Linked DNA regions of Homo sapiens: region 1 is linked to region 2. The links come from fine-mapping of genetic effects on gene expression. Tissue or cell type: whole blood. Region 2 holds a variant in brackets; the other region holds the start of a gene. All regions are shown on one strand. Distances are between the middles of the regions.

The links. PIP is the estimated chance that this variant, and not a neighbour inherited with it, causes the effect.
Region 1: it holds the start of PRKCH, and the variant in region 2 is fine-mapped to the expression of PRKCH in whole blood (TOPMed, PIP 0.99).

The regions. Positions count from the first base shown.
Region 1 is chr14:61,318,662-61,323,888 of GRCh38, forward strand. It overlaps PRKCH (protein kinase C eta), which reads left to right and starts at 2,918. Exons shown (of 14, transcript NM_006255.5): 1 at 2,918-3,803. The coding sequence starts at 3,441. PRKCH-AS1 (PRKCH antisense RNA 1) reads right to left here and starts at 4,157. Exons shown (of 5, transcript NR_186042.1): 1 at 3,874-4,157. RefSeq lists silencers at 1-84, 2,711-2,980, 3,131-3,300 and enhancers at 3,262-3,806, 3,807-4,350.
Region 2 is chr14:61,388,701-61,393,927 of GRCh38, forward strand. PRKCH (protein kinase C eta) reads left to right here. Exons shown (of 14, transcript NM_006255.5): 2 at 2,525-2,588. Among named protein-coding and RNA genes, the nearest start is that of PRKCH-AS1, 68 kb to the left of the region's middle. RefSeq lists an enhancer at 1-174. The variant G/A (reference allele first, on the strand shown) is at 2,331.

The DNA of each region.
Region 1 (5,227 bases), 70 kb before region 2:
TATTTATCTTCATCTCCATCACTACCACCTGAGTCCTGGCCACCATCTTCTCACCTCTGGACTTTGGCAACAGCTTCATAAACTGGTCTCCCCACACTCGTGCTGCTTCTTCCAATCCACCCCCGAGAGAGATATTTTATTTTACTAAAAAAATAAAATGGGACTACAGGCACATGCCACCACATCCAGCTAATTTTTTTAGTTTTTATTTTTTGTAGAGACAGTCTTGCCATGTTGCCAAGGCTGGTCTTGAACTCCTGGGCTCAAGCAGTACTCCTGCCTCAGCCTCCCAAAGTGTTGGGTTTATAGGTGTGAGCCACCTTGCCTGTCCCCAGAGAGGTATTTTAAAACACAAATCCTCATCTTACCCTGGCTCTGCTTAACAGCCTTCAGAGGCGTCCAGTGGCCCATAGATAATGTCCAAGGCTTTCCTGTGATCTACCAGTCTGGTCAGTGTGACCACCTTTGCAAGCTCATTTCAGCCACTCTCCCCTCACCTTCCTCAGCTCCAGCCACGCCTTCCTCAGCTCCAGCCACGTAGGGTGCTTTTGGTTCCCAAACAGGCCAACCCATCTGTCTCCTCAGGAGCTCTCAATGAGCTGATCTCTCTGCTATTTGCTTTTTCAAGGAACCCTTCCCTGACCACCCATCCAGTTATAATACATCACCCCTTGGCACCGTGGGCTTTTCCTTCACTGCACCCTCTTCTATTAGTTGTTTTTCCTCCTTGTGGGACTGTAAGCCCCAGGAGGGCAGGCACCATGGCTGTCTGACCCACTGCTCTGTCACCATTGCCAATCCTGATAGGTACTGATAGGGTGAAGATGGAGTGTCTGGTATCGTCATATCCCAGTCCCAGGACAGCTGTGTGGCCACCTACCATTTGGGGACTGTTTTCTTTTTAAAATTTAAAAAAAAATTTAAAGTCTACACCCCATGATTCTGTATGGGGACTGTTTTCTTTTAGCCCCAAAGTCCAACAGGAGCAAATCCTTTAGTGGCTCTTAAAGCTAGAGTTCAGCTGTTTGGAGGAAAGGGTGACAGAGCTGACCCACAGGGTAGATGCGACATCTTCCCCTGGAGCACTAAGGCCAAACAGGAGCCCCCTGGACGTTTGGGAGCAGGCTTTACAAGCCCTGCCTAAAGCTAAGATGTCATTAGAGTGATGCGTTGCATCCCTGCCTTGTTCTCTAAGGAAGCTTTGGTGTTTTCAAGACAGGCCCTTTCCCCCCTGGCCCATTGTCCTTACTTGTTTTCATTCTGTATAGTGCTGTTATTACGGGTCAGGCCTCCTTGCACTCATGTGAAATCGTTGAGAACCTACTCAATTAGAAAGTTCTGAACAGGGCCTTAGAGGAGTGGGGGCTAGAAAGATGAACCTGGGGCCAGGCACGGGGGCTCATGCCTGTAATCTTAACACTTTAGGAGGCAGGGGCTGGAAGATCACTTGAACCTGGGAGCTGGAGGTTATGGTAAGCCATGATCACACCGCTGTATTCCAGCCTGGATGACAAAGCAAAACCCAGTCTCTAAAACATAAAAGAAAGAAAGGAGGGAAGGAAGAAAGAAAGGAATGAAAGCAAGCCGAATCTGCTCCGAGGGAACCAGTATAGCAAGACAGAATGTAATCAAGTATCTTAAGAGTGGCCTAGGCTTGGCTGGGTGCTGTGGCTCACGCCTGTAATCTCAGCACTTTGGGAGGCCGAGGCAGGCGAATCACTTGAGGTCGGGAGTTTGAGACCAGCCTGACCAACATGGAGAAACCCTGTCTCTACTAAAAATACAAAATTAGCCGGGCGTGGTGGCGCATGCCTGTAATTCCAGCTACTCGGGAGGCTGGGGCAGGTGAATCGCTCGAACCTGGGAGGCGGAGGTTGCGGTGAGCCGAGATGGCGCCATTGCACTCCAGCCTGGGCAACAAAAGCGAAACTCCGTCTCAAAAACAACAACAACAACAACAACAAAAAGTGGCCTAGGCTTTTTGGGGAACAAATTGGTTGTGGCTGGCCCTCAGGGAGCAAGCTTTGCGGCATAGCAGCGTAGGCTAAAAGGTCCTCCCCGGAGACAAAATCTGCAGGGACCACGGGGTGGGAAGCATCAGAAGGCTGCCCACTCTGACTGCAAATACAACAAGCTGGAGTGTTCCTAGAAGAGGCAATTTCTTCCGCGTGTGTGTTGGGGACAGCCTGTGTGTGTGAACATTTTCTGCCCTTGCCGCGCAGAGCTGGGTGGACCAGAAACCACCCGCAGAGGAAGAGACTTATTACCTCTTGGCCATGTCTGTCTCCAGAAGAACCGACCTTTCCTGCTCTATGTGCAACAAGACACACCTTCCGAGGAAGGAGGCGAACAGGATTTCCATCATTACTACTGCCCTATTAAAACACACACATACACACAACTGTGTAATTAGCCTCTGCAGGAAAGGCGCACAAACAGGATGCGTTCGAGCTGACCCCGGGATGAGCCATCCCTGTAAATATTAGGAAAAAGAACCTCCCCGCCGTGCCCCCGCCTCCGGCCAGGGCCTCTTGGGGATGGCCCTGCAGGGTCACCAGCCCACCGGGGAGGTTGGGAGAGAGGGGGCGGGCGACTCCTCGCCGCGCGGGTTCCTGGCTGGAGCGCCCTCCTCTGCGTCCTCCCAACCTTCCATCGCTCCCCAGGTCAGTCTACCACGCCTCAGGTGTTTGCTCGGGCTGGGCCACGAACCCTTTCCTTTTTGGCCTGCGCCCGGGGTGGCCCCTAACCCGCAGCGCACGGCCAGACCCAGCGCTACAAGGAGGGCGCGCAGGGCGGCGCAAGCGGGCACTGGCCTCCCGGGGGCTTGCGCGGGGATCCACCCACCGCAGGGCCGGGCCGCGGACCGCGGGCCACGCCCCTGGGGTCCGGAAGGCGCGGGAGCGGACGCGGGGGTTCTGTGAACTTGGAACCTGGCGGTGCGAGGTTCTCGCCGGGGATGCGGCGGCGGCAGCTGCTTCCTGGTTTGAAGCTCGCCGAGTGGGGGAGAGCGTGAGCCTTCGGAGGCGGGGGCAGGAGGAGAAGCAAGAGGAGGCGGGGGAAGAGACGCTTGGGGCTGGGGCTCACCGGACGGGTAGGTCCGGCTCTCCAGGGAGAGGAGCTGCCCGGCCCTGGAGAAGGGGCGAGTCCTGCGCGAGTCCCCGGGAGGCGCCGCGCGCTTGGAAGGGACGGTCGGGCTTCCCCGGCCCGCTGAGGGCTCGGCGGCGGGCTCCCCTCCTTTCCACCTCGGGAGGGAGGGAAGGAGGGGAGGGAAAAGTCCCACGGAGGAGGCAGAATGGCCAGTCGAGGGGCGCTTAGGCGCTGCCTTTCCCCAGGGCTGCCTCGACTCCTGCACCTGTCCCGAGGGCTGGCCTGAGACGGGACTCCCGGTTCTCCCGCTGCGAAGCAGCGCGGCCCCCCGGGGCCGGGGCAGCGGCGCCGGCATGTCGTCTGGCACCATGAAGTTCAATGGCTATTTGAGGGTCCGCATCGGTGAGGCAGTGGGGCTGCAGCCCACCCGCTGGTCCCTGCGCCACTCGCTCTTCAAGAAGGGCCACCAGCTGCTGGACCCCTATCTGACGGTGAGCGTGGACCAGGTGCGCGTGGGCCAGACCAGCACCAAGCAGAAGACCAACAAACCCACGTACAACGAGGAGTTTTGCGCTAACGTCACCGACGGCGGCCACCTCGAGTTGGCCGTCTTCCACGAGACGCCCCTGGGCTACGACCACTTCGTGGCCAACTGCACCCTGCAGTTCCAGGAGCTGCTGCGCACGACCGGCGCCTCGGACACCTTCGAGGGTTGGGTGAGTAGCGGTGACCCCTTCCCTTTGTGTCCACCCAACCCCCGTTCCCCTTATGTTTTTCAAAACTCACCCGGGTCCCGCTTTCCCATCGCTTTGTGGCTGAGGGAATTCCCTCCAGACTTTGGTCTTCGTCCACGTGGCCGCGGCACTGGTGACGCGACCGCGGTGGGTGTGTGCAGGCGCAGGTGTGTCTCCAGGAAGCCGGCCTGGACACGATCCCCTTTCAGGACAGCGGCTTGGCCTAACGGGAAGTCGGGCAGGGGTCCAGGGCGGTCACCCTTTCCGCCCAGTCTTTGGGTAAGGAGCTCCAACTTTCAGCACGAGAGTGATAGGTAGGAAAGGCAGGGAAGGAGTGATACAAAAGGGACTTGATTTGGGTAAAGTGCTTCAAGCGCTACTTAGGAGAAAGCCGTACATTCTCGCGAGTATTATTCATAATGTTTATGGATACATGTTGGTTCAGCCGCTCAGACGTGCACACGTGTTTCGGCTTGCACATCCCAGAGGTACATGAGCTACACTGGCAGGGAAATGAGCGCCTGGGTCTGCACGTTGGCAGTTTTATTATTTAGCATTTTTCCAAGGAGATGAGATTTACATATACTTGCAAGTAACTTAGTCAGTCCGAGGTGGGAGTCCTGCAGTGTGGGTTTCTGCTGCTATGGGTCTGAGAAGAGGCTGTAAGGACTCCTCAGGAGGTTGTTAACTGTCTTCCCTCCCCCCATCACCAGCCTGTGTTCCTGGGTATTGACGTGTAGCTACCCGCAGCTCTCCCCTTGCCTCTGCTTTTCACATAGTTCCCAGGAGGCATAATTTCTGCTGTAAATCAATTAAAACTTCTAGAGCGCTCTACACGGTGCTAACATGCTTTTACTGCCTAATCCTCACACTGTCTTTGTGATGCAGGTGTCATCGTTCCCACTTTGAGATGATGGAATGATAATTATAATAAAGTAGTCTGGTTTGGCAAAGTGGAGTACGCCATTTGAAGACTCTCAGGAGTTTAATAGTTTAAGTTCTGGAGGGAGTCAGTTTTGAACCCAATATCAGTATTGAAAATGTTTGAAATTTACAAGTGGTGAAATCAGATGGATGGTGATGAAGGCTCATTTAGGTATTTATTTTATACTTTGTGGAATTAGTAATTTTACCGTATATTTTCTAAAATTAAAGATGGCTTGTGGAGCTATTCCTTTCTTTTAAATAGAAGTACAAAAACCATAATGACTAACCTTAATCGTCAAATTATATTGAGTTAATTTCCCTTCAGCCTAATTTACTTTGTGGTACTTAGAAGTGGGGACTAGAGAGGAATTGCTAAAATACAGTTAGATATTTACATTTATCCTGTGAATTTCTGGAAATGAAATAGAAGTGAGTGTAGGCATCCAGATGGAATTGTTGAGTTCTATTAGTGTCTGATT
Region 2 (5,227 bases):
GAGGCTGATATCCTGTTTAGTCATCTCTCTAGAGAGCTCTATTTTCAGAGCTGTTCTATAAAGGTTCACAAGTGGTATTAAGATAGTTAAGAGGATATTGTTAACAGTAGTCATGATGCAAGTAGCTGATTTGAACAGGGAGGTGATTTATAGTGTGGTAACCACATTGGTAACAGGTTTTATGCAGAGAAAGGGTGGGTTGTAAGAATAGGTTGTTATACAGGTTAAGCTTTCTGAATCTGAACAAAGCAGGCATCTTTTATTTTGAAAAAGTATATAATCAGGGTGTGGTGGTGACCTAGGGTAAGTCCAGTGCATTTTTGGGGGCTTTGTCATGGGTAGATACAATAAATTTTAAAAAAGTAAACAGTACTGTTAAGAATCTTTGAGATTGGCTGGGCATGGTGGCTCTCGCCTGTAATCCCAGCACTCTGGGAGGCCAAGGCGGGCGGATTGCCTGGTCTCAGGAGTTCAAGACCAGTCTGGGCAACATGCCTCTCTAAGCCAGGCATGATGGCATGTGCCTGTGGTCCCAGCTACTTGGGGGGCTGAGGCAGGAAAATCACTTGAACCCAGGTGGTCGAGGCTACAGTGAGTCATGATTGCAGCATTGAAGTCCAGCCTGGGTGACAGAGGGAGACTCTGTCTTAAAAAAAAAAAAAATCTTTGAGATCATATGTGGAGGCTGTGTTAGAAACGCTAGGCCAATGCCAGGCACAGTGACTCACACTTGTAATCCCAGTGACTTGAGAGGCTGAGGTGGGAGGATTGCTTGAGCCTAAGAGTTTGAGACTGGGCAACATAGTGAGACCTTGTCTCTACATACATACATACATACCTAGATAAGCAGGCAAGCTGGTTATGGTGGCACATGCCTATAGTCCTAGCTACTTGGGAGGCTGAGGCAGGAGAATCGCTTGAGGCTGGGAGTTCAAGGCTGCAGTGAGCTATGATTGTGCCACTGCACTCCAGCCTGGGAGACAGTGAGACCCTGTCTCAAAAAAAAAAAAAAAGAGAAAAAATGCTAAATAATGATGCCATAGACTTTTCAGATTGGAAGAGTGAGGCTCAGTGTGGTAAAGGACCTTGCCCAGGGTCCAGAACCAGCTGTGACAGAATCAGACTAGAGTTCTTGGCCTGGTCTAGTAGGGGGGCTCTTTCCACTGTACCATGTGACTATTTGCAGCTTATTTTAAATTTAATATTTGACCAAAAATGGTCATTCGTATCTCTAGTGAAACTTCTCTATATGCCAGTCTTCCTCTTCAGATGAAAGGTCAAAGGCAGAAATGGAGCCACAGCCAAAGAAAGAGAAAAATAAAATAAAAATGGAGCCATGGGCAGAATCTGAAAAGATTTATTTAAGGACAATTGTAAATTCATGTATTTGAGTCCACAAGAGCCTCACAATGCAAGGCTTAGAGGTGTTCATGGATAGTGAAGTTAGCATCCGGTAGGAAGAGGGGAGTCCGCCCACCTAAGCTAGTGGTGATCAGAACAGAGCCAGAGGTGCTGTTCATCCTGGGCGCCATGCTGTATGGGGTCTTTCGGAAACTGGACTATATGCAGAGGACGACACCATATGAAAAGACTTCAAGCTGCATTGCTTGCAGAATGCATGTCTTGATATTTCAGCTGATAGGTAACTTCAAGGTATGTTGATACTCCCGTGACTAATTAAGAGTAGCAGTCCGACACAGTGTCTCACGCCTGTAATCCCAGCACTTTGGGAGGCTGAGGCGGGAGGATCATTTGAAGTCAGGAGTTCGAGACCAGCCTGGCCAACATGGTGAAACCCCATCTCTACTAAAAAATACAAAAACAGATCAGATGTGGTGGCACACGCCTGTAATCCCAGCTACTCAGGAGACTGAGGCAGAATTGCTTGAACCTAGGAGATGGAGGTTGCAGTGAGCTGAGATCATGCCACTGCACTCCAGCCTGGGCAACAAAGTGAAACTACCTCTCTCTCTCAAAAAAAAAAGAGTAGTGAATGCAAGGCTCCTAAACTTCCTTCCCTAGTGCTTCCTTAAGATTGACCAGACTTTGGTGGAAATATGTAGCAGAGACTCTTTATACTTTTTACTCCATAAAACTAAAGATTTGCAGTTGACCAAGCCACATGTGTTCATTACCTTGTATGTTGCCGTTATTTCTCTATTTCATATTCTTGCCATGTGGTTTAGTAAAATGCTGCTCTTATAAGCCATATGCATAAGATATGGAGGTCTCAAAAACAATTACCAAGTATGTGGATGTGCCTGTCTATATTATGACAAGCCAAAAATGGGAGAGAATAAAATTCAAGAGGAAGGAAACTGATAAAATGT[G/A]GTTTCTTTTCAGTCTTTACAGTTTTTTGAGCTTTCACTTGTTTCCCTGCCACTCTACTATTTAATGAAAGACTTAGATTTATTTGATTTGTGGCTGTGATTTACACATTAGGCCTCTCTGTGATGAATTGTTTAAGGCCCACAAAAATATTTTAAAACTAACATATAATATACATTTTTTTTTCTCTTTGTAGGTGGATCTCGAGCCAGAGGGGAAAGTATTTGTGGTAATAACCCTTACCGGGAGTTTCACTGAAGGTAAGAATGAGTTTTGGGTAGTTTCCAGAATACATGTAATCTTGGTTTACACTCAGTAGGAATTTCTATCATGGACATTATAAAAAAGAGCATGTTGTAAGAGATGCTTAAAAAATCACTTTCATAAGTTGGGCTGGCTAGTATTTTGTTGCCCAGTGGTCTATTGGTTCAGGTTGCCAAATTAAATATATTTGCTAAATCTGGCAATCTCACGTTTCATTTAACACACTCAATGAGTTTTTGTTTTTAGCCAGTGTCATCGTAGCTGAATGGTTTTTGCGTCTTTTTGGTTCATGACTGTGGAACTCTACGTCTTTGGTTTTGTGCCATCTTTTAGTTTGCCTGTGAATGTCTATGAAAGAAATTTAGGGATCCAGTTATCTTCTTTATAATCTCTATCTCATTTGTGACCTGTAAGGGATTCTGTTCTTCATCTGTGGCTACCGTACTCCCTACTCCCCCATCCAATATTTTTTTTACTTGAGGTAAAATTTATATGGGGGTGAAATGATAGATCAGAAGTGAACAATTTGAATTTTGACAAATGCATACAACTGCATAACCAGCACCCCAATCCAAGATACAGGACATTTCCATTATTGTGAACATTTCCCTGTACCCTTTTTCAATCCCCTGCTCCCAGAGGCAATAAGTAAAGTGCTTTATTTCACCACAGGTTAGTTTTACCTACCCTAGAAGTTCATATACATGGAATTATACAGTATATTCTCTTTTATGTCTGGTTTCTTTCACTCAGCATAGTTTTTAGAAGATTCATATCATTGTGTATATCAGTATTTTTTTCATTTTATTTCTGAGTAGTAGTATCCCATTATATAAATGTAGCATCCATTTGTTTACCCATTCTCCTCTTGGTGGACTTTTGGGGTTTTTCCTATTGTTGTCTATTATGAATAATGCTTTTATTAACCTTCTTACACATAAATTTTTCTGGACATAACACTTTCATTTATCTTGGATAATTATATAGGAGTGGAATTGCTGGGTAATAAAGTAGGTGTGTGTGTAACTTCAGAAGAAACTTCCAGATGGTTTCCAAAGTGGTTTTATTATACTCCCACCAGCAATGCATGAGAGTTCCAATTACTTCATATCCTCATTAACACTTTCTATGGCCATTGCTTTTCATCGTAGACATTCTAGTGGGTATGAAATTATATCCTGTGGGTAAATTTGCATTTCCCTGATGGTGAGTACTTTCTCACATGCTTATTGGTCATTTGTTTGTTTATTTGATAATTTCCAGTTCCAGTCTTTTGTCCTGTTTTCTAAAATTGGATTTGTCTTTCTATTATTGATTTAGAGGAGTTCTTTGTTTTCTGGATATGAGTCCTTTGTGAGAAATAGGTATTGTGATTACTTTTTCCCAGTCTGTGGCTTGCCTTTTCATTTTCTTAATGGTGTCTTTGAGCAAAAGTTTTAAATTTCTATGAAGTTCAATTTGTTAATCTCATCTTTTGTAGTTCATATGTTTTATGTCTTCAGAGATCTCTCTGTCATAGGATCACTAAGATATTCTCCTGTTTCTTTTTTTGTTTTTTTTTTTTAAGAAGCAAATAGTTTTAGGTTTTATGTTTAGGTCTGTATGCCTTCTTAAATTGATATTTGTGTGTGATGTTACAGAGGAGTTGAAACATTTTTTTTCAATACACGAATGCAGTTGTTCTAGCACCATTTATTAAAAGTCTCCCCTGGCCCCTTGAATCACCCTGGAACCTTTGTTGAAAATCAATTGACCATATAATGTGGGTCTGTTTCTGGATTATCTGTTCTGTCCTGTTGATCTGTTTGTCCATCTGATCTCTCTTTCTTTTCTCTACATTATGCCAGTATTACACTGTCTCATTACTGTTGCTTTATAGTGAGTCTTATGGTTACATAGTATGAGCCCTCCAACTCCGTTCTTTTTTGTATGTTTAAGGTTATTTTAGCTATTCTCAGTATTTTGCAATTTGATATCAGTTTTAGAGTCAGCTTATATATTTCCAGACAAAATCCTGCTGTATTTTGAATTGAAATTGTGTTGGATCTATAGATCAGTTTGAGGGGAATTAACATCTTAACAATCTTGAGTATCTTTAAACCCATCTGTAGTCAAATTAGTCAATTCTGTAGTCCGTGGACATGGTCTTTGCTCGTAAGGCATAGCCAGTGTGAGGTTTCAGTAGAAATCCCAAGGTGTTTTAAGCCCATTAATTTTATGTCACTCAAGCTTCTAACTCTTTCTCCTATGGGTGGGAAACAGCTGAAATCTCAGTTCCTATCTTTCAGCATCCTAGCTCTTGCTCCTGTCTGGACCTCTTAGAGTTTCCCTTGCACATGCACAGTTTAGGAAGATGTGAGGGCTTGAAGAGTTTACATATGTGGAGGTTCTTCTTTCTGTGGCCCCATCTTTCCAGGTTTTCTCCCCTCAATATCCAGTCATCTGGTAGGCTTGAATTTTGTCAATTCTGCCTTCAAGCCAATAAAACTGTGGTTCCATATTGAGTTCTATTTACCCAATCCTGCACAACCTGGGGAATAATCTGGAGAAAAGCCCTACAAATGTGGGTCTCACCTAATGCGGTTTCCCTCCTTCACGTGTCAGATTCTCTCTAGTTTGTATGTGTTTTTGGTTG